Linked DNA regions of Homo sapiens: region 2 is linked to region 1. Evidence: fine-mapped expression QTL. A gene starts in region 1. The other region holds a variant in brackets. All regions are shown on one strand. Distances are from middle to middle.

Region 1 (12,045 bases):
CAGGATTAAAGCAGTGACCTTTTTCCTGCTCTTGAAAGCTGAATTCATTAGTGACGTTCTATACGGTCTATAAATTATTTTTTAAAATAACACTTCCATTGTGTGGGTATTTTTAAGCCTATTGCTAATAGTTACTTTAAGCCCTCTGATCTAGAATGTAAGCATGTTTTGTTAGTGTTAAAACAAAATGAAATCCTGTTTTGCAGTAGTTACAACTTTACCATCTCTCCCAGGGGCAGCAAAGATAAATAGATTATTTTTAGGCAAATGTAAGGCACTATATTCTTAGATTATCATTCAGATATTCATCAAATATTCAATGAGGGTTTCTCAGTGCCAAACATTGTGTTGGAGTTGGAGATCCACTCGTGAAATTAATGAGTCAGCCTCCTCCAGAATTCACAATAGTCTTTCCTTGATTAATTTTGCAATATCCAAACTATCTGAGATATATCTGTGCATGTGTATGGATGTGTAGACTCATGAATATAAAACACTACTATAAAAAAGATAACTACTTAACATTTAACCATGATTATTGTAGGAGGTGCAATACTTAACTCTTAAAAAAAGTAAGTAGAAGTATCTTTAAAAGCCGCATAATGTGTGATTCAACAATTCTACTTTTAGGAATTCATCTTCACAAAATGATAAAGGTTAGTGGCAAATATTTAATTACAAGGGTGCTCATAGTAGAATTATTATTATTGTTGTTATTATTATTATTTTAAGACAGGGTCTCACTCTGTTGCCCAGGCTGGAGTACAGTGGTGTAATCAGAGCTCACTGCAGCCTCCAACTCCTGAATTCAAGCAATCTTCCCATCTCAGCCTCCTGAGTAGCTGAGACTACAGGTGCTTGCCACCATTCCTGGATAATTTTTTTTTTTCTTTTGCAGAGGCAGGGTCTCGCTATGTTTCCCAGGCATATTTTTTTAAAAAGTGCAAGAAACATCTTAGATCAATGCAGGATTGCTTACATAAATTATGATCACACAATGGGAAACTAGGTAATATTAAAAAGGATTATGTAGAAGTGTTTTCAATGATGTGGAAAAAATTCCATGATATATCAGAAAGTGAAAATTAGAAGTTTCCTTGTTGCTTAGGTGTCTAGTACAGAAAACAAGTCCTGACTGTGCTCTGAGCCTGGGCAAGACACTTGACCTCACAGACTCAGTTCTTCCATCTGTTAATGTGTGGAATTTGTGTTACCCTCAAATTCATATGCTGAAGTGATAGTCCACAGTGCCTCAGAATGCGATATTTGGAGATAAGGTTTTTAAAGAGGTAATTAAGTTAAAATGAGGTTATTAGGGGGCCTTAATCCAATATGACTGATATGCTTATAAGAAACGGAGATTAGTACATAGGCTGTATAGGGGTAAGACCAGGTATAGACACAGGGAGAAGACAGCCATCTGCAAGCCAAGACGAGAAGCCTCAAAGGAAACCAACCCTGCCAATAACTTGATCAGAGACATAGACTTCAGAACTTTCAGAAAATAAATGTCTGCCGCTCAAGCCACCCAGTCTGTGGTAATTTGTTATAGCAGTCCTAGCAAACTAATACACCATTTAAAAGAGGGAGAAAATCTTAATATCATCTTTATTTAGCTCACAAGTTTGCTGTAAGTCAAATAGATGTAATCTCTTTGTAAACTGTAAAGTACTATATAAATGTGAATAATTGTTATTCACAAGGTCCTTGAAAATGCAGTCATGTTGTTACGATTTGAATTTTATATTCCTTTAGTAGGGCAGACACTCAGTATCAGTACAGGGGATGGGGAGAAGCAAGAGATTTCCTAGGGCTGCAGCAAAAAACACAAATGATTTGTCATTGAAAGAAGAGGCAAAATAAAATGAATAGTTCCTTGCATTCATGCTGCAAATTTTTAAGCAAACCGATACCTAAACTACATACAATAACAATATCTAATATGTATTAAGCATTTACTAAGTACCTAGCATAATCCCAAGTACTTTTAATATGTGTTCTCAGCCAGGCGCGGTGGCTCACGCCTGTAATCCTAGCCTTTATCAACCCCATGGTAAAAGTGCTTGGTGTGTGTATGTGTGTCATGTACTGTGTATATATATTTATTTATGTGTGTGCATCTATTTTAGTTTTGTTACATGTATCTTTTTTTTTTTTTTTTGGAGACAGGGTCTCACTCTGTTGCCCAGGGTGGAGTACAGAGGTGCAATATCGGCTCACTGCAACCTCTGTCTCCAGGTTCAAGCGATTTTCCTGCCTCAGCCTCCCAATTAGCTGAGTACAGGCGCCCATCACCACGCCAAGCTAATTTTTAGTAGAGACGAGGTTTTGCCATGTTGGGCAGGCTAGTCTCAAACTCCTGACCTCAAGTGATCCACTCACCTTGGCCTCTCAAAGTGCTGGGATTACAGGCATGAGCCACCGCACCCGGCCTGTTATACATATCTTTAACATTAAAATTTGTTCCTATGTGGTAAGAACAGTAAAAGGAGTAATAAAATTGCCAAAATAAGTTGTGATTTTCCAAGAGATGACTGTGCTTTGCATTACTGTGAAACACTGAAAACACTGCTAAATGACCTATGCGTAACACACACCCATGCTATCTTCTTACTCTTGCCCCAGTACATCCATATGCATTGCTCTAACAGTGTGCAAGCTGTTCTTCTGAGTTTATTTTATGATAAGCGTATTGAATACATTATCTCAAATCTGTGTAAGCATCCTGCTTATAAGAATCTCAAGCAATGAATAAAAAGAAAAGCCTTATGTTTTAAGGAGAAAATGAAATAATAAAATATTTTGAAACAAATGAGAGAACTTGCAGGCCTGAAGGAATCCACATTGCCCATTTAGATTTAGAGATTTAGAAACAAGGCTAAGAAAATAAAAGAAAGGAAAACTCTTACATCATAGTTATCTGCTTCCAGTGGAATTGAGAAGCATTTGGAAGAGACTGAAGACAAAGAAAGACTCTAATGCTGAACAATGAGTGTGGATGAGGCCGGGCGTGGTGGCTCATGCCTGTAATCCCAGCGCTTTGGGAGGCCGAGGTAGGCAGATCACTTGAGGTCAGGAGTTTGAGACCAGCCTAGCCCGGCCAACATAGTGAAACCCTGCCCGTACTAAAAATACAAAAATTAGCCAGGCTTGGTGGCGGGTGCCTGTAATCCCAGCTCCTTGGAAGGCTGAGGCAGGAGAATCGCTTGAACCCGGGAGGTGGAGGTTGCAGTGAGCGAAGATGTCACCACTGCACTCCAGCGTGGGTGACAGAGCGAGACTCTGTCTCGAGAAAAAAAAAGGGCTGTGGGGGGGGCTATCATTTTAACCTAGTAGATTGGCAAAGACTATTTTTTAAAAATATTTAAAATAGGGAGCCCGAGGCGGGCAGATCACGAGCTCAGGAGATCGAGACCATCCTGGCTACTAACATGGTGAAACCCCGTCTGTACCGAAAATACAAAAAATTACCCGGGCGTGGTGGCGGGCGCCTGTGGTCCCGCCTACTCGGGAGGCTGAGGCAGGAGAATGGTGCGAACCCGGGAGGCGGAGCTTGCAGTGACCCGAGATTGCGCCACTGCACTCCAGCCTGGGCGACAGAGCGAGACTCCGTCTCAAAAAAAAAAATAATAATAATAATTAAAATAATTAGTTCAGTAATTTTCCCATGAGAATTTGTTCGAGGGAAATAATGAGACTAGGGTTCAAAAACATATGTGCAAGTATATTCATTACACAATTGTTTACGGGTTTAAAAAATTCAAGTAATTTAATGTAGCAGTTGAGGTTTGGTCAAATTAACCAAGATATATATTCTTTCATTTAGCAATTCTGCTGGAATCTATCCCTTGGAATAGTAAATAAAACCAACAGTTCTCAGGATGCAACATTTATAACAGCAGTTTGTGGAAGCAAAAAATGGCAAATCCACAGCACGGAGGAGGAAAAAGAAAAAAATTGCACATGGCCAGGCACGGTGCCTCACGCCTGTAATCCTAACTCTTTGGGAGGCCGAGGCAGGCGGAACACCTGAGGTCAGGAGTTCGAGGCCAGCCTGGCCAACATGGCGAAACCCTGTCCCTACTAAAACTACAAAAATTAGCTGGGTGTGGTGGCACATGCCTGTAATCCCAGCTACTCTGGAGGCTGAGGCACAGGAGAATCTCTTGAACCCAGAAGGCTAAGGTTGCAGTGAGCTGAGGTCACGCCACTGCACTCCAGCCTGGGCGACAGAGCGAGACTCTGTCTAAAAAAAAAAAAAAAAAAAAGGCACATAATGATCATCTTCATGCATTCAGGTAAGATACTGTGTGCACATTCACAAAATAAAAATAGACTAAAGGATGGTTTATGGAATACTATGCAGTTGCAAAGAAAGCACAAATTTATATTTTTAAAAGATAAAGATATAAGAAAAAAATTCATAACTGTACATATAATCCTATTTATGTAAAAAATATATATATATATATGGTTGTCTGAAGATATTTTGGGACTCCAAACACCTTCACAATGACCACTGAAGACCCCATTCCACAATGGACTCCACCTAAATGCTGAGTTGGAGTTATAATAAGATTTGGTTACCAAGGCATTTATTTAAGTGAGTATTAACTTTGCTCTTGCCCTTGAAAAGCTCCTAATTCTAGTTATCTTTATCCAAGCGTAAGAGATTAAAGACCCGCCTGAAGATACAGATGCAAACTGACCGTAAGACAATCAGCGAGTCTCACACAGCTCGGCTTTGTATTTTCAGACAACCCTTTAATTACAAACGCCTCTGGGCCAATGGTCTGAAAATGGTTGGGACTGAGGTGCTGGGGATACAATGATGAACTGCAGCCGCTGAAGCCCTGTCAGGTGGAGACCCGGTTACCTCAGACCCTCACTGAGCCTTTTCTTTTTTCTTTTCTTTCTTCCTGTTTTTCTTTTGAGACGCAGTCTCCCAGGCTGCAGTGCAGTGGCTCACTGCAACCTCGGCTTCCCGGGTTCAAGCGATTCTCCTGCCTCAGCCTCCCGAGTACCTGGGATTACAGGCGGCGCCACCACGCCAGGCTAATTTTTGTATTTTTGGTAGAGACGAGGTTTCACCATGTTGGCCAAGCTGGTCTCGACCTCCTGACCTCAGGTGATCCGCAAGCCTCGGCCTCCCAAAGTGCTGGAATTACAGGCGTGAGCCACCGCGCCCGTCTACTGCGCGTTTTCTAAACCTTGGCTCCTACGCATTTATCAGAAGAGAGAGCGCAATCTGTCTATGACTTCCAGCCAATAGCTACACTTCTTTTCTCAGCCCTCGTCCACTGTTCTTTTTTAACCAATCAGAAACGTTTTTCAAACGTTTGCCCTCCCCGCTAAGTGCGCAGGCTCCTGGAAAGTTGTCTTCACTTCCGGGCCGCGGTCTAGGGCGGCTACGTGTGTTGCCATAGCGACCATTTTGCATTAACTGGTTGGTAGCTTCTATCCTGGGGGCTGAGCGACTGCGGGCCAGCTCTTCCCCTACTCCCTCTCGGCTCCTTGTGGCCCAAAGGCCTAACCGGGGTCCGGCGGTCTGGCCTAGGGATCTTCCCCGTTGCCCCTTTGGGGCGGGATGGCTGCGGAAGAAGAAGACGAGGTGGAGTGGGTAGTGGAGAGCATCGCGGGGTTCCTGCGAGGCCCAGACTGGTCCATCCCCATCTTGGACTTTGTGGAACAGAAATGTGAAGGTAAAAACCAGAGCCCGAACCGACAATCCTTTTCTCCTCTCTCACACCAGCGGCGGGCAGGGGGTTGGTAACCACAAGCCATCTCTCGTCTCCCCGACCCCCTGTCTCCACCCCTGTCGCAAGGTCTCGTTCCCCTCACCACCTTCTCCACCCGCGTCATCAGGTTTAGAGCTGGTTGTGTGGGAGGAATTCCTTTCACCCTGCCAATGTGTTCCTTCGCAGACCTGAAAACGGGGACCGAGACTCCCCTTCTCTGGGGCCGAAGCGCACGTCCGAAGAACATTAGACTTGAATCGTAAATTCGGTCTCTCACCCTGTCCCGAACGTTTCTGCCCTCGGCAGGTGGACTGTTTGGCTGGGCTTCTTCAACAGCTTTGCCAGACTTGAGAGGAGAAGCGTCGGTTTACCTGAGTTCCTTATGATCCCTAGCATTTCGCCCGGTGTAGTCAGCTTAGGAAATGAGAAATGATTTCACTCCAAACCAACAGTTAACTGCAAAGGAGGGCATGTGATAACTCCAGGAAGCCCAGAGCCGGTGATTTTGGTGGCCTGTGTTCCCCTTGGTGAGCTCTCTACTCTTCGCTATACCAAAAATTGGCGAGGTGGGGCAGGACCATTCTTGGAACAAATGAGGCGTATAGATATGGCATAATATTCCCCGTGAAGGACAGGCATCTCCGGGTTCTGAGCAGTTCTTCAGGCTTGGAGTTCTGCATTCAGTTCGTGGAGACTATTTGCAGCCCATTCGCAGAAAAGGAACCAGAAACCACGTCATATAAATGAGTGCCCAAGCGTTATTGTGGTTGTTTAATCGGGCAAGACTTTGAGGGTAGTAGTATTCATCAATTATTTGAACATCTGCTTTGTGTTGTAAGGTTGAGTAGAATAGAGCTAGGGTCAGTTGGTACAAGCTACAGGGAAACAAATTTCAGTGAAGGAAGTGTTTCATGATAGAATGTATCCAAGATGAGTTAGCCAGCCTCAGAAGGTAATGAGCTTCCCGGCTCCAGCAGTGTTTGAATGGATCTGATAGCGACTTAATAGGGTTAGAGGGATTCAGCTATTCAGCTATCAAATGGTCGGTTATCCTGGATGACCTTTTAAGACTTCTTTAAATTCCAAGATATCATGAATCTGGTAAAGATGAAATTCAGTTTGACCACTGAATCTTTTCATTACATTTTCATTGCTATAATCAATATTCAAATCGTAGTTATTAAAGTGTTATTTTTACAGGTAATTTTTTAACAATGTTCAAAAACAAAATAACTTGTATTTGTACTCCTTTTTTTTTTTTTTTTTTGGGAGACAGAGTGTCGCTCTGTTGCCCAGGCTGGAGTGCAGTGGCGTGATCTTGGCTCACTGCATTGTTTTATACATATGATCATTCAGTAAACACTTGTTTTGATTTTATTTAACTTCATTATTTATCTGTGGTAACAAAAATTGCCTGGTCACTTTCAGTAACATTTACATCAGCAAAATTCCAGTACAATAAAATAATATGGAACCTATTGTAAAAGGATTTAACCATTAACAATAATATTACATTAAAAGTTATGAAGAAATTATTGCCTCATATTGATTGAAATGTGTTTTTGTCTTAAATATGAGGTAGTATTCATTTTAAATATTTTCTCAAGTAGGCAAAAAAGCTTGTTTACAATTAATAGTATATATGTGTGTGTGTGTGTGTGTGTGTGTGTATATTTTTTTTTCTTTTTTTTTTTTGAGATGGAGTCTCACTCTGCCGCCCAGGCTGGAGTGCAGTGGTGCAATCTTGGCTCACTGCAACCTCCGCCTCCTGGGTTCAAGCAATTCTCTTGCCTCAGCCTCCCGAGTAGCTGGGTCTACAGGCGCGCACAACCACGCCTGGCTGATTTTTGTATTTTTAGTAGAGATGGGATTTCACCACATCAGCCAGGCTGGTCTCGAACTCCTGATCGTAGGTGATCCACCCACCTTGGCCTCCGAAAGTGCTGGGATTACAGGCATGAGCCACAGTGCTCGGCCAATAGTATATATTTTTAGATATATTCATTTATATATTTTTAAAAGATAAACCCTAAGAATTCAAAGCTGAAGAGCTAGGTTGACAGTTCTATTTGGAAGGAGTGGATTTTTAAATTTGCATTAATAAAATGATTTGGTTTTTACACTATGTAATATTTTCTTTTAAATTTAGTTTTTGATGATGAAGAAGAAAGCAAATTGACCTATACAGAGATTCATCAGGAATACAAAGAACTAGTGAGTATTTTTTTTCACTGATTTTTAAAAGTAATTAGGCTAATACTACTTATAGCTTTTCTAAATGAAGAAAAATATTTTTACATTAAAAATCCTTAATTTTACAAAAATCCAATCTACCTTAACAATAGTGCCAGTTATATCTGTCTCCACAGGTGCTCTGAATATCTCATTTGGATGACTTATCTCCTCTACTCTAAGGAATGGTTTTACAACTCTTTATGGGTTCTTGCATGTATTCTTTATATCTTATTCTTATTTTGTTGACGCATCCAGGGACATATTAATTATTCACTTCGTCATGGTTGTCATGTGATTTTTTTATTTTTTATTTTTGAGACAGGGTCTTGCTCTGTCACCCAGGCTGGAGTGCAGTGGCACTATCACAGCCTATTGCAGCCTCAACCTCCCCAGGCTCAAGCGATCCTCCCATCTCAGCCACCTGAGTAGCTGGGACTACAGGTGTGCACCACCATGCCCTGCTAATTTTTTTGTATTTTGTAGAGATGGCGTTTCTCTGTGTTTCCCAGGCTGGTGTGGAACTCCAGAGCTCAAGTGATCCACCTGCCTGGGCCTCCCAAAGTGTTGGGTTTACAGGTGTGAGCCACTGCCCAGCCTGTCTTGTGATTTTAAAAAATGCCTCTGGCAGTGGGGCTCAGTGGCTCACACCTATAATCCCAGCACTTTGGAGGCCAAGGCAGGTGGATTGCTTCAGCCAAGGAGTTCGAGACCAGCCTGGGCAACATGGTGAAACTCCATCTTTATAAAAATTACAAAAATTAATCAGTCATGATGGCATGTGCCTGTAGTCCCAGTTGCTTGGGAGGCTGAAGTGGGAGGATGATCTCTTGAGCCCAGAAGGTCAAGGCTGCAGTGAGCCATTACTGTGCCACTGTACTCCAGTCTGGACAACAGAGTAAGACTCTGTCTCAAAAAAAAAAAAAAGAAAGAAAGAAAGAAAAGGCCAGGCGTGGTGGCTCATGCCTATAATCCCAGCACTTTGGGAGGCCAGGGCAGGCGGATCACCTGAGGTCAGGAATTCGAGACCAGCCTGACCAACATGGTGCAACGCCATCTCTACCAAAAAAAAAAAAAAAAATTAGTCGGGCATTGTGGCAGGCGCCTCTAGTCCCAGCTACTCAGGAAGCTGAGGCAGGAGAATTGCTTGAGCCTGGGAGGCAGAGGTTGCAGTGAGCCGAGATCGTACCACTGCACTCCAGCCTGGGTGACAGAGTGAGACTCCATCTCAAAAAAGAAAGAAAAGAAAAGAAGAAAAAAAAATGCCTCTGGGTAGCAGAAGAGTTGTACCACATTGAACTTCATAATCCTGACTTCAACTATTTCTATTAGAAGAAATACAATTTCATGTGATTTTCAGCAAAAATATTAACTTTTAATTTGTGTTTTGGTGAAAGACAATGTCACTGTCATGTAATATGTAGATTAATATTTGCAAAAAATTCGATGATACTTTTCTAAACTAAATACTTAATATGCAAACTGTCATGTAGAATTTTTCTATGTAATTATAAAAGTTAAACTTTGTTTTTTTAGGTTGAAAAGCTGTTAGAAGGTTACCTCAAAGAAATTGGAATTAATGAAGATCAATTTCAAGAAGCATGCACTTCTCCTCTTGCAAAGACCCATACATCACAGGTTTTTGCTTTGTGTTATTCTGCTAACATACAGTTTTAACAAATGCCCAGGGTTAAACACTCACTTAAATTTGAATGTTTGATTGACAAAGTGTAATATTTTAGACATTGTGAGAGGTAGAAAGATAATTCATCACATATGAGTTCTTTTTGAGAGCAACCCTGAAAAATGATAATTTGAGGCATTAATGAACTGATGCAACTCAAAGTGACCTTTCTAAACTCAGAACTAGAATAAGATCACAGGGTTTATACAAACTACTGTTTTATTTACATAGATCTCCAATAATTCTGCAGTTGCTCCTTTTATAATTTTAGCAGATCCACAGTCAGTAGTTCCTGCTGCTGCTTCCTTCTCTTGGAACTACTTGTATTATCTTACTGGTTGTGTAGTGCTAGGCTGAAGTAGTAATACATATGTTATAAACTAATGTTTGTTTTTGTTGTTTTTTTGATATGGGGTCTCACTCTATTGCTCAGGCTGGAGTTTAGTGTGATTGCAGCTCATTATAGGCTCAACATCCCTGGGCTCAGGTAATCCTCCCATCTCAACTTTCCTGGTAGCTGGGACTACAGGTGCCGCACCAGCACACATGGCTAATTTTTTTTTTTTTTTTTTTTTTTTTGTAGAGACAGGGTCTTGCTGTGTTGTCCAGGCTGGTCTTGAATGCTGGGCTCAAGGGATTTGCCCATCTTGGCCTCCCAAAGTGCTAGGATTACAGGCATGAGCCACCACGCCCAGCCTGTAAACTAATGTTTATTGAGGGCTTGTGCTAATTGATATTTTGGGCACTTGACATGTTTTATCTCATTTAATCTTCCTGACACCTCTTAAGAAACTGCTACTATATAACTTCCATTTAGAAATGAGGAAACCAGGCCCGGAGTAGTGGCTCACGCCTGTAATCCCAGTACTTTGGGAGGCCGAGGCGGGCAGATCACCTGAGGTCGGGAGTTCGAGACCAGCCTGACCAACATGGAGAAACCCCGTCTCTACTAAACATACAAAATTAGCTGGGCATGGTGGCACATGCCTGTAATCCCAGCTACTTGGGAGGCTGAGGCAGGAGAATCCCTTGAACCCGGGAGGCGGAGGTTGTGGTGAGCCAAGATCGCGCCATTGCACTCCAGCCTGGGCAACAAGAACAAAACTGTCTAAAAAAAAAAAACAAAAAAGAAATGAGGAAACCAAAGCACAGATATATTAAGCAAATAGTCCAAAGTCCACAGCTAAATAAGTAGTAGAGCCAGTATCCCCAGCCCAGGCAAGCCAACTGAGTGCCCTTGCTCAGAGGGTGAGGATTGGGATATGTTGCTACTACCCAAGTAGCCTTTTGCTCAAAAACTGAAGGCCAGGAAGTGGCTCATGCCTATAATCCCAGCACTTTGGGAGACCAAGACAGGAGGATTGCTTGAAGCCAGGGGTTCGAAACCAGCCTGGACAACATAGTGAGACCCCATCTTTAAAAAAAATATAAAAGTTAGCTTGTTGTAGGTTGTGGTGGTGTTCTCCCCAGAGTACCTACTCAGGATGCTGAAGTAGGAGCATCACTTGAGCCTAGGAGGTTGAAGCTGCAGTAAGACAAGATCATGCCACTGTACTCCAGCCTGGGCAACAGATTAGGACCCAACCCCAAAAAACAAAACATTGGCTTTGGCATCTCATCTTCTACTAAATAAACTGTAATTTCTTAGCAAGATATGGTAAGAATTGTTTAAGATGAGACTCCAGATTGTATTTTTAGCCATGATCCCTTGCTATAGTTCTCCAATACATTATGTTCTACTGCCATTCCAGGTAACTTGCTCTCTTTTTTTTTTCTTTTGAGATAGAGTTTCGCTCTTGTTGCTCAGGCTGGAGTGCAATGGCACAATCTCGGCTCACTGCAACCTCCGTCTCCTAGGTTCAAGTGATTCTCCTGCCTCAGCCTCCCAAGTAGCTGGGATTACAGGCTCCCACCACCATGCCCGGCTAAGTTTTTGTATTTTTAGTAGAGGCAGGGTTTCACTATGTTGGCCAAGCTGGAACACCTGACCTCAGGCGATCCACCCGCCTCGGCCTCCCAAAGTGCTGGGATTACAGGCGTGAGCCACCACGCCCTGCTGCCCCTTGCTCTTATAAGCATCTGTACACCTACCTTTGCTCATGCTGTCCCTTAACCTGGAATGTATGGTCCCCTCCCCAGACCACTCCATCATTCCTTTCATAATGCGGAGAAATCCTCATTATCAGGGCCTGGTTGAAATGCTACTTGTTATAGCAGCTTTGCTGCTTATTCTAAAGTCAGACCAGAATTCAATCTACTTAACTAGGCCAATTGTAAATTGATATTTTTGTTACTCTGCCTTGAATTATAGTTTCCTACAAGTCTATTTGCCCTACTAAATTGTAAGTCCTTTGAGCTGTGTTTAGTATATTTGCATTCCCTGCTGGTAGA
Region 2 (12,045 bases), 130 kb after region 1:
CCCAAAGTGCTAGGATGAGCCACCATGCCATGCCTGGCTACTTAGTACTTCTTTTTTTTTGAGACATTTTCCCTCTGTCACCCAGGCTGGCGCGCAATGGCATGATCTCGGCTCACTGTAACCTCTGCCTCCTGGGCTCAAGCGATTCTCTTGTCTCAGCCTCCTGAGTAGCTGGGATTACAGGTATGCACCACCATGCCCGGCTAATTTTTGTACTTTTAGTAGAGACAGGGTTTCACCATGTTGGCCAGGCTGGTCTCGAACTCCTGACCTGAAGTGATCTGCCTGCCTCGGCCTCTCAAAGTGCTGGGATTACAGACATGAGCCACCACACCTGGCCAGTACTTCTTGATCTAAGTTATATGAAATTCCACTTTTTAAAGCAATATTTTATAATAAGCCTAATGAGAACTATAGTTCCCATTAGCAAAGTGGAAAAGAATGAAGGGAGAATCAAGCACACTAGCTCACCTGAAGCTTGTTGAATAGCCTCCATCACAATTTTTATTGGTATTCCAGGTAATTTAATATCAGCCTAATATGGAAAAGTCAAACAATTATATAAATATTGACTCATGGCATTATTTAAATGTTACAAAAATGAAACAAAATGGGTTTTAAAAATACCTGTAATGCAGTTATTCCTTTATTAGTGCCAGCTATTTTGAAGTCCATGTCACCATTGTAATCTTCAATTCCCTTCAGGAATTTAAAAAGTTATGACATAGTTTTAAACAAAAACAAAAGTCAACATATTCACTGTAGAAACATTTCAAAAAACAGCTTTAGAAGTAAACCATATCCTAAGTCCAAACACAAAGCAATGTTTTCTACATTAACTACCACTTCCAATTTGTGACTTTTTAAGCTACAATTATTTTCACCAGAAACATCATTTTATTTTTAGATCATTCCTTTCCCTCATAAATGCCTGAGAATGAATTTATGCTCATCCTAAAGTGAGTCATTATGAATACTTACACTGTGTAAGTATTACTGCAATACTTAAGGGTAAGTATTACTATTTTTTTAAAGTAATCATTTTATTTTATTTTATTTTACTTATTTTGAGACACAGTCTTGCTCTGTTGCCCAGGATGGAGTGCAGTGGCACGATCTTGGCTCACTGCAACCTCTGCCTCCCGGGTTCAAGCAATTCTGCCTCAGCCTGCCAAGTAGATGGGATTACAGGTGTGTGCCACCATGCCCAGGCTAATTTTTGTATTTTTAGTAGAGATGGAGTTTTGCCACATTAGCCAGACTGGTCTGGAACTCCTGACTTCCCAAAGTGCTGGGATTACAGGCATGAGTCACTGTGCCTGGCCTATTACTATTAATATAATATCTATTTTAAATTCATATCCTATAAGATACAAGGTGAACATGCAGAGGAGGAAGGGAAGAACAAGTACCTGTTCTTCAAATACTAGCATTCTTCTAAGCATACGCTAGGTGCAAAGTACATATAGTCTTCACCATTATTTGTTTTTATCTTTTAATTTTTATTTATTTATTTTTAGTCTTCATTATTAAATATTTGAAACCGAGAATATACTTGCCAAAATATCTGTCAGCAAACGATAATCTTCTATTTCACCCTTCTCAGGATCGGTTTTGGTGACCAATCCTATTGCTACGCCTGCAACAGCAGATGAAATTGGAACCCCTATAATTGGGAAAAAGAACAACTGTGGGTAATGTGTACATGAGCCTAAAACAAATATTTATCTATCAATTTTTTTTTTTTTTTGAGAGGGAGTCTCGGTCTGTTGCCCAGACTGGAGTGCAGTGGCATGATCTTGGCTCACTGTAGCCTCTGCTTCCTGGGTTCAAGCAATCCTCCCACCTCAGCCTCCCCTATAGCTGGGATTATAGGCACCCGCCAACACGCCTAGCTAATTTGCTTGTATTTTTAGTGGAGATGGGGTTTCAACCATGTTGGCCCTGTTGGTCTTGAACTCCTGACCTCAGGTGATCTGCCAGCCTCAGCCTCCCAAAGCGCTGGGATTACAAGCGTGAGCCACCGCGCCCAGCAGACATTTACTTTTAATGTAAGTGGATATTGTTGCCTAAATTGACAATCACCGAAGCTGAGTTGGAAGTCTTAAGAGGTCATCTGACTACTTCGTTTGTTTTTGAACATATAATAAAGTTCCCTAAAACAATGTAAACAAGTACTATATCCAGCAAAAACTTCTCTAACAATAGCAAACTTTATAACTTTTAAATTATCCGTTGGTTTGCTTTTTTGCTTCAGGTGTCTTATTTTCTTTTTGTTGGAAAGTAAGCATCTATTTGGTAAATTCTTCCAGCCTGAACTCCTCAGTTTACCTCCCCATGGCAGCTAACATTAGTGTATCCTCCTAGAAAATTTCTGTGCACAAGTATAAATGTAAATATAATCTTTTGTTTTCTTTACTCGTGGCGGCAGACTGTATGCATTTACTGTTCTGCACCTTGCCTTTTTCACTTAATAACATGTCTTGGATATTGACACATACCACCACACAAAGCTCTACTTTATTCCTTTGAATAGTTTTAGTACTCCCTGTATGTTTTACAAGTCACACACAGAAGTGCGATTGCTGAGTCAAAAGGTATGTGCATTTACGTTTGTTAGACTGTCAAACTGCCTTCTAAAGACATAGCATTTTAAACTTTTACCAGTGGTGTAAGAAGGTATATGCTACTCTATATTCTTATTAATTCTTGTCAAATCTTTTGATTTTTCTCAATTTAAAGTGTAAAAAATGGTTATTTTAAATCTGACTTGTTTTTTATGACTGAGGTTGAAAACTATTTCATGTTCATAAACCTATTTATATGTCTTATTTTGAGAACTCCCTGTTCATGGCCTTCAACACTTTTCTACTTGGTTGGCAGTCTTTTTATTACTGATTTTCTTTCAATATGGACAGAGCTTTATTAAAATGTAAAGATAAAATATTATGTTTAATAACATATAAATAAAATATTTTATTTCCTAGTTCGTTGACTTTGCTTATGGTCATTAGTTTTCTGTGTAGGATTTTTAGTTTACGTAATCATGGTTTCTGGGTTTTGCTTAGCAGAGCTTTTCTTCTCCAAGATTTTGATAAAACCTACCATCTTTCATTTGTTTAAAAATGTTTAAGTTTTGATCACTTGGAATTTACTTTGGTATAAAGGAGTGTGGATCTCATTTCATTTTCTCTAAGCAACCTCATCTATACTTACGATTTTAACCACCATCTATAATGTTGATGACTTAAAAATCTATCCCTCCTGTCCAGCTATCTGTGCCAAACCCTGGACCTGTATTAGTAAACTCCCTGTCAGACATCTCCAGCTAAATGTCCCCAAAGCACCTTAAATATATATTCAAAATTGAGCCAGGCCCAGTGGCTCATGCTTGTAATCCCAACGCTTTGGCAGGCCAAGATGGGAGGATCACTTGAACTCAGGAATTTGAGACCAGCCTGGGCAATATATTGAGACCTCATCTCTATAAATAATAATAATGATGATGATGAAAGAAATACATATATGTTCAAAATTGAATCACTGTCAAAAAATCCTTTTCCTCCTGCATTCTTTGGTTGAAAGCAACTAAGACACTCATGCCAGAATCAACATTTCTTTCCTCATTTCCTATATCCCATCAAGTCACAAAGATCTGTTTATTTTTTTAGAAAGCTGTCCTTTACCCTAAATATTAAAATACCTATTGTAACTTTTTAGTCTGAGTCCATATCATTTCTTGCCCTGGCAACAATCTCCCTGTCTGGCTTCCCAGATTTTACTTTCTCTCTTTGCTTCTTAGTCTCTCCCATCTCATTCCGCAGGGCTATTCATCACTTAAGCTGGGAAAAACTGTTTGGAAAAAACAAAAGCAGATTCAAATCATGCCACTGTTTTCCATAAAATCCTTCAAGTTCCCCATTGCCTACTTTCAGGAAATTTTTGTACATATTCTGTGGTCAAATAAATTTGGAAAAATATTACATGTCCTATTCCTAGAGAGTCAGTATTCGGATTAGCTTATTAAAGTCTATTTAATCCATATTAAATAAACCTGCTTAACCCTGCTGAAACTTAACTTTAGAACAGAATAAACTTTTTCATGGTATACAATAATCAATGTCCTGTGGAACACTATTCCATGGAATACTGAATTGGAAAAATGCTGGCTTTAAGTCCAAACTCCTTAGCGTAACAATAACCTTCAGATTGTACAATGTGTGGCTTTCTTGAGGCACTGCCTCTCGAGTCCCTACCTCAAACTCCACTTCAAATAGGAGATTTTATGTTGGGGAAAGAAGGATTGGTAAAGAATTCTTACTTAAAAAAAATCCTGCCCTCTCTCCCTCTCTCCACCTCTACCTCTACCTCTACCTCTACCTCTACCCACGGTCTCCCTCTCCCTCTCTCCATGGTTTCCCTCTGATGCCGAGCTGAAGCTGGACGGTACTGCTGCCTGATTCTCCTGCCTCAGCCTGCCGACTGCCTGCGATTGCAGGCGCGCGCCGCCACGCCTGACTGGTTTTCGTATTTTTTTGGTGGAGACGGGGTTTCGCTGTGTTGGCTGGGCTGGTCTCCAGCTCCTAACTGCGAGTGATCCGCTAGCCTCGGCATCCTGAGGTGCCGGGATTGCAGACGGAGTCTCGTTCACTCCATGCTCAATGGTGCCCAGGCTGGAGTGCAGTGGCGTGATCTCAGCTCGCTACAACCTTCACCTCCCAGCAGCCTGCCTTGGCCTCCCAAAGTGCCGAGATTGCAGCCTCTGCCCGGCCGCCACCCCGTCTAGGAAGTGAGGAGCGCCTCTTCCCGGCCGCCATCCCATCTGGGAAGTGAGGAGCGTCTCTGCCCGGCCGCCCATCGTCTGAGATGTGGGGAGCACCTCTGCCCTGCCGCCCCGTCCGGGATGTGAGGAGCGTCTCTGCCCGGCCGCCCCGTCTGAGAAGTGAGGAGACCCTCCGCCCGGCAACCGCCCAGTCTGAGAAGTGAGGAGCCCCTCCGCCCGGCAGCCGCGCCGTCTGAGAAGTGAGAAGCCCCTCCGCCCAGCAGCCACCCCGTCTGGGAAGTGAGGAGCGTCTCTGCCCGGCAGCCACCTCGTCCGGCAGGGAGGTGGGGGGGTCAGCCCCCCGCCCGGCCAGCCGCCCCGTCCGGGAGGGAGGTGGGGGGATCAGCCCCCCGCCCGGCCAGCCGCCCCGTCCGGGAGGTGAGGGGCGCCTCTGCCCGGCCGCCCCTACTGGGAAGTGAGGAGCCCCTCTGCCTGGCCGGCCGCCCCGTCCAGGAGGGAGGTGGGGGGGTCAGCCCCCCCGCCCAGCCAGCCGCCCCGTCCGGGAGGTGAGGGGCGCCTCTGCCCGGCCGCCCCTACTGGGAAGTGAGGAGCCCCTCTGCCCGGCCAGCCGCCCCGTCTGGGAGGTGAGGGGCGCCTCTGCCCGGCCGCCCCTACTGGGAAGTGAGGAGCCCCTCTGCCCGGCCACCACCCCGTCTGGGAGGTGTGCCCAACAGCTCATTGAGAACGGGCCATGATGACAATGGCGGTTTTGTGGAATAGAAAGGGGGGAAAGGTGGGGAAAAGATTGAGAAATCGGATGGTTGCCGTGTCTGTGTAGAAAGAGGTAGACGTGGGAGACTTTTCATTTTGTTCTGTACTAAGAAAAATTCTTCTGCCTTGGGATCCTGTTGATCTGTGACCTTACCCCCAACCCTGTGCTCTCTGAAACATGTGCTGTGTCCACTCAGGGTTGAATAGATTAAGGGCGGTGCAAGATGTGCTTTGTTAAACAGACGCTTGAAGGCAGCATGCTCCTTAAGAGTCATCACCACTCCCTAATCTCAAGTACCCAGGGACACAAACACTGCGGAAGGCCGCAGGGTCCTCTGCCTAGGAAAACCAGAGACCTTTGTTCACTTGTTTATCTGCTGACCTTCCCTCCACTATTGTCCTGTGACCCTGCCAAATCCCCCTCTGTGAGAAACACCCAAGAATGATCAATT[TA/T]AAAAAAAAAAAAAAATTAAAAAAAAAAAATCCTATTTCTGTATAAAGCTATCCTTCCTCTGACTAGAAACAACTAGGAAATAAAGAGAAGACAAAGATAAAAAGGAAAGTCAAAAAAAAAAAAAAAAAAACAATAACCTTCAACATATGGTTCTACTTTATTACCTTAACACCTCTTTCGAGTAGATTCCTGAAACACACTACACTGTAACTTCTTAACTTTGCACATGCTGGTCCTTTCATGTGAAATACAGGCCCTGCTCCTAATATGCCCAGTCAACAATTACTCAGCCTTTAAAATCAGATGAAATGTAGCAGTCTCTCTCAGCCAATTATGCTCAGCCTAGTTCAACAATCACCCTTACACATATTTGTATTATTACCTCTTCAATCTATTAGTATCTTTTTGTTTTCAAACCTTTAAGCTTTTTCAAAAACTGGGTACAATTTGCATCCCTGGGGCATAGGACAGTGCCTGACTTAGGGCAGGGCAAGCCCTACTCTAGCAATTCAAATTCATATTTGAATTGAACTGCATACCTTGTATCGGCCCATCCCACAGGACTTGACATTCATTCTTATCAAATTTAATTTTTTTGAGGTTTTTGGCTTTAACGCTTCAAATTTAATTTTTAAACTATTAAGCTCCATATTTTTTTATCCTGCTCAATTTTGTCAGTCACCCATTCCTTTTAATCAGTATTTTTATTGGCAGTATTTTTACTGGCAGGCCAGTGTTCTCAGTCAAGTCAACATTGAAAGAGACAGGGCTGAAATAAGCATCCTCACGTCTTCAACTTGAGATCATTCTCTGACCTGTTGATCAGATTAAGCAGTCCCTTTGCTCATCCCTTAACCAGTATGAATGGTGCACCTATTATTTAGTCTAAATTTCTGCATCATTTACACAAGATATCATAAAGATATCATAAACCGTAAAGCTGAATTATAGATATATCACACCAACAGCAATACCCTCTACTGCAAATGCAGTAATTTCTTCAAAACAGAAAGTGAATTAACTATGGCATGACTTATTTTAGAGAAGTCCCTTCTGGCTTCTTTCTGTAGTCCCTTTCCTTTTTTGTTTTCTTGAGACAGAGTCACTCTGTTACCCAGGCTGGAGTGCAGTGGCACGATCTTGGCTCACTGCAGCCTCCGCCTCCTGGGTTAAAGTGATTCTCTTGACTCAGCCTCCCAAGTAGCTGGGATTACAGGCGTGGGCCACCACACCCGGCTAATTTTTGTATTTTTAGTAGAGACGGGGTTTCACTATGTTGGCCAGGCAGGCCTCAAACTCCTGACCTCAAGTGATCCACCCACCTCAGGCTCCCAAAGTGCTGCAATTACAGGAATGAGCCACTGTGCCTGGCCCCTTTCCTTTCTAAACTACTTATAAACCATTCTTTTTTTAAGTTCTTAAGAGTCTTGTTGAGGGTCACGATCAAGTTCATTGGGTTATACTTTATAGAAAATACTTTTCTTCTCTTCCAATAATAAGAACGTTTTCTGTCCTTGGGATACTAGTCTCCACGATTTCTCAATGACTGCCATCATACTTCAGTAATCTAATCCTGAAGTTCTCATTATAGTCAAGGATGAGTTTTTGTCTAGACCAAAAGATCTGAATTCATTTAAAAATGGCAGGTAAAGACTCCCCTATGATGTCATCTTTTATTTTTCAGTTTACTTTTTTCAAGATTTGTTCAGTGTTTTCCAGTATGAGATTTGGAAGACTGAGAAACACAAGTGCCATGAAGTCTAAGACTGTTTTGTTCATCACCATGTCCTAACAACTTAGATCAGTGCTTGGCACATAGGTGCCACAAAGTAAAGATTTGTAGAGTGAAAGAATGAAGATGAAAATAGTAGCAGCAGTATTTTACCAGCTACCTTAAATATCAGATTATGTTTTCCTTTATTGAATAAATTACAAAAGTACCTTTTGCATTTTTTGCTTTGGCCTGTTTTTAGTTTCAATTTTTCTAGATAATATTATTATATATTCAAACCATGTTTTCATTTAATCCTTTGTTATTCACGGCCCTCTTTTCTATCTTTCATGCCAGTACTGTAAATGTGTTAAGTTATCAGAGAAATCCTTTTGTGGCCTCTTTAGTGTCTTTAGGTTCCTTCTCTCTTTCTTCTCGAATAGCAGCATTCATGACAGTTTGGCACGAATTGGTTTTAAGAATCTCCTAGCGGCCAGGTGTGGTGGCTCATGCCTGTAATCCCAGCACTTTGGGAGGGCAAGGTGGGTGGATCACGAGGTCAGGAGTTCGAGGTCAGCCTGGCCAATATGGTGAAACCCCGTCTCGACTAAAAATACAAAAATTAGCCAGGCGTGGTAGCACGCACCTGTAATTCCAGCTACTCAGGAGGCTGAGGCAGAAGAATCACTTGAACCTGGGAGGCGGAGGTTGCAGTGAGCCGAGACTGCACCACTGCACTTCAGCCTGGACAACAGAGCGAGACTCTGTCTCAAAAAAAAAAAAAAAAAAAATCTCCTAGCATAATGCTTTCGTTTTTGGCGTTTCAGACCTGGGGATTATAATGAAACATTTGTAGTCCGCCTTCCTAAAATTGTGTGTACACGCCTGAGTGGCATTGTTCTCTTGGCTTGTATAAATCGACTGAAAGATTACAGTTGCTTTCTCTTATGATTCCTAATAGTACTTACTAATCAAAACTTCCTTGGTGATTGGAATCAATTCTGGAGCTCTCTACCTTTTGGAAGGAAATAAAGTTTACTGGGTCACCAATGCAAATAAAAATTTTTCAGTGTACTGCTTTTAGCTAAAAATAAGAATTCCAGCAGATATCTGGATATCTGAAGCTCTACTTTTCAGCCATCTTGCCTCTGGCTTGATTTGGCCATCTGTAATCTGACTTTGAGTTTTACTAAAACCCAAATTTAAAGAAATCTTATATTTTATACTAACAGGTGTGTATAAAAGGTTAGCATTTTTTTTTAATCTTTTTTGTAGAGATGAGGTCTTGCTATGTTGCCCAGGCTGGTCTTGAACTCCCAGCCTCAAGTGAGCCTCCTGCCTTGGCCTCCCAAGGCTCATGCCTGGGATTACAGGCATGAGCAATATCAGCAGTTTTGAGACATAATTCTTTTACCTGAATCCATTAATGCTAAACTTCCGCCACATGCAGATGCCATAGAAGATGACCCTATAGAAAGAAAAATAACTGCTTTATATTAAACTGATTTTTTTAATGTAGAAAAGTGTTACTATTGGTTATTTCCTTATAAATATTCAGTTACAATACAAATATTCAATAGTCTCTTCTTTTTAAAAGCAACTAAGGCAAGGTCTTTTAAGCTATAAACTATGGGGCTGCAAGGTCCAATATGGTAGACATTAGCCATAAGTGGTGACTTAAAGTTAAATCAATTAAAATAAATTTAATTCTTCAACTAGATAGGACAGATAAAGAGGATTTCTATCATCACAAAAAGTTTTATTTTACTATTATTTTTTGAGATGGAGTCTCAGCCTGCCACCACGCCCAGCTAATTTTTTGTATTTTTAGTACAGACAGAGTTTCACCAAGTTAGACCCTTTGGACCTTATGATCCACCCGCCTTGGCCTCCCAAAGTGCTGGGATTACAGGTGTGAGCCACCAAGCCCAGCCTATCACAAAAAGTTCTATTGCATAGTATTGCTACAGATATTCTAATAGACTTCCTAGTGCATATCTTTTGTCTTGCTTATCAGAAGTAGTTAAAGATATAGGGCTTTGGCTCTCTCATTCTCATAAGCCCATTAATTTAGTCACACCCAGTAGAGAACCACAAAGTCTTTAGTTAAAATTCTGAGTTTACCTTGGTATTTTTTCCTCAAAATCTGTGACTATCTGATTTACGTCTGTTACACCTTTAAGAACTCCATGACCTTTCTGCCTTTAATGACTGCACCGTACCTTGACCCATGGACAAATTTTTTATTTAAATGTGACCTCTTGGCCTAGACTCCCTCTGTGATGTACACTTATTATTCATGTGGATATGTGACAGGTATCTCCTGCCTAATGATCACTCTATTTTGGCCCTTCCTCTCTCTGTTAACCTTGTTCTGTGGTTTGTTTGTAAAAATAAAGAAACAAGCCAAACTGGATCTACTATAACAGATAAAGAAAAACATTTGTTTTATATTGCTTTCAAAACAACTCATTAGCTAAGAACAGAGATTAAGACAAGTATTTGATTAACTCAATACATTTTTCTCTTGCAACAAACTTGGGTTCTGTAGTAATAAACAAAATGTAACATTACATTTGAAAACTTAATAATAGAATAGGGAATATGGTCTTTTCTACTATGAAAGAAGTATTTCAATACCATACCATTTGACTCTAGGACTTCAGATGTAACTCTTATGGTGAAAGGAAAATCTCGGGGAATAACAGGATACAAAGCTTTCTCAGCAAGAGCACCTAAATTAGAATAGAAAACAATAAGTAAAAAATGTATTAAGTCTCTGTAAGAATACCGTATTAAGTTTACAGACCTGTACTTACCATGCCCAAGTTCTCTTCTATTTAAACCAGTGACTTTGCCAATTTCATTAGTTGCATAAGGAGGAAACTTAAAAAAAAAAAAACACAAACACACATATACAATTGACATAGAAAGATGTCCAAGTTATATTACCAAAATAATAAAACAACTTATAGAACAGTAGAATCTCATTTTTGTTTTTTAAAAAAGTACATTCATAAATATACAGAAAACGTATGATATAAATTTAACATACATACCAAATGGTTAAAAGTAGCTATTTCAAGTGTGTACATGGATTAGGATGTGGGAACTGGATGGGTATGGGGATTTACACCATAAATTTCCATTACATTTAAATTATTAACAATAACGTTATATTTTTGTAATAAGTAAAAATATGTACATATTTAAAAAGTACACATTGAAGAATCACAGATTTTTTTCCATAGCAAAGCCCACATTTATTTCACTAAATTGAAATTTAATTTACACTGATACTTTTTAGAGTTATCTCTCTCCACTAACTTTTTCAGATATGAAACAAAATACATGAATGGGAAAGTTGCATATTTTGAAGTATTTCTCAAGCAAAACACAATGACAAAAATGTATGGAGGAAACAGCTCTTTTCCATAAGGGTTTTATTTTAGCCAGTGGTTGCAAACTGTTTTATTTGGTGGATATGTTACCTTGAAGGAATATGAATTAGTTGTGATCATTTGACAATAGGAAGACTTCCCATAAAAATCTGTAATTTCAGGCCGGGCGCAGTGGCTCATGCCTGTAATCCCAGCACTTTGGGAGGCCAAGGCAGGCAGCTCACTTGAGCTCAGGAGTTTGAAACTAGCCTGGCCAACATGGTGAGACCCTGTATCTACTAAAAATAGAAAAATCAGCAGGGCGTGGTGGCGCATGCCTGTAATCCCAGCTACTCATGAGGCTGAGGCACAAGAATTGCTTGAACCCAGGAGGTGGAGGTTGCAGTAAGCCGAGACTGCACCACTGCACTTCAGCCTGTGGAACAGAGACCCTTTTTTTAAAACAGAAAAAAAAAATTCCCCCAAATATCTGTAATTCCAGATTAACAAGAATTTTTTTTTTGTTTTTTCTTTTTTTTTAAGACAGAGTTCTGCTCTTGTTGCCCAGGCTGGCGTGCAATGGTGCAATCTCGGCTCACTGCAACCTCTGCTTCTGGGTTCAAGCGATTCTCCTGCCTCAGCCTCCCAAGTAGCTGGGATTACAGGCATGCACCACCATGCCCAGCTAATTTTGTACTTTTAGTAGGACAGAGTTTCACCATGTTGGTCAGGCTGGTCTTGAACTCCTGACCTCAGGTGATCCGCCCGCCTCGGCCTCCCAAAGTGCTGGGATTACAGGCATGAGCCACCGCTCTTAAATGCAGTGGATGGAGCAGGAATCTGATTAAACCTCTGGATCTAGCGGTCAATTTGCAGGAAATAGAGAGGGGGGAGGAACATGTTGAATTGCACCATGAGTGTACAATCAGCAACACCCAGACTGTGGGAGACTATAAGTCAAATGGCT

The links.
Region 2: its variant is fine-mapped to the expression of CFAP36 in whole blood (INTERVAL, PIP above 0.99). The same link has a PIP of 0.9 or more in CD4 T cells, Th17 cells and Th2 cells.

The regions. Positions count from the first base shown.
Region 1 is chr2:55,514,215-55,526,259 of GRCh38, forward strand. It overlaps CFAP36 (cilia and flagella associated protein 36), which reads left to right and starts at 5,504. Exons shown (of 10, transcript NM_080667.7): 1 at 5,504-5,702; 2 at 7,888-7,952; 3 at 9,507-9,608. The coding sequence starts at 5,588. RefSeq lists enhancers at 4,805-4,854, 6,035-6,284.
Region 2 is chr2:55,645,788-55,657,832 of GRCh38, forward strand. PNPT1 (polyribonucleotide nucleotidyltransferase 1) reads right to left here. Exons shown (of 28, transcript NM_033109.5): 16 at 10,518-10,584; 17 at 10,344-10,433; 18 at 9,113-9,166; 19 at 1,560-1,666; 20 at 628-699; 21 at 472-535. Among named protein-coding and RNA genes, the nearest start is that of PPP4R3B-DT, 34 kb to the left of the region's middle. RefSeq lists an enhancer at 4,272-4,884. The variant TA/T (reference allele first, on the strand shown) is at 5,986.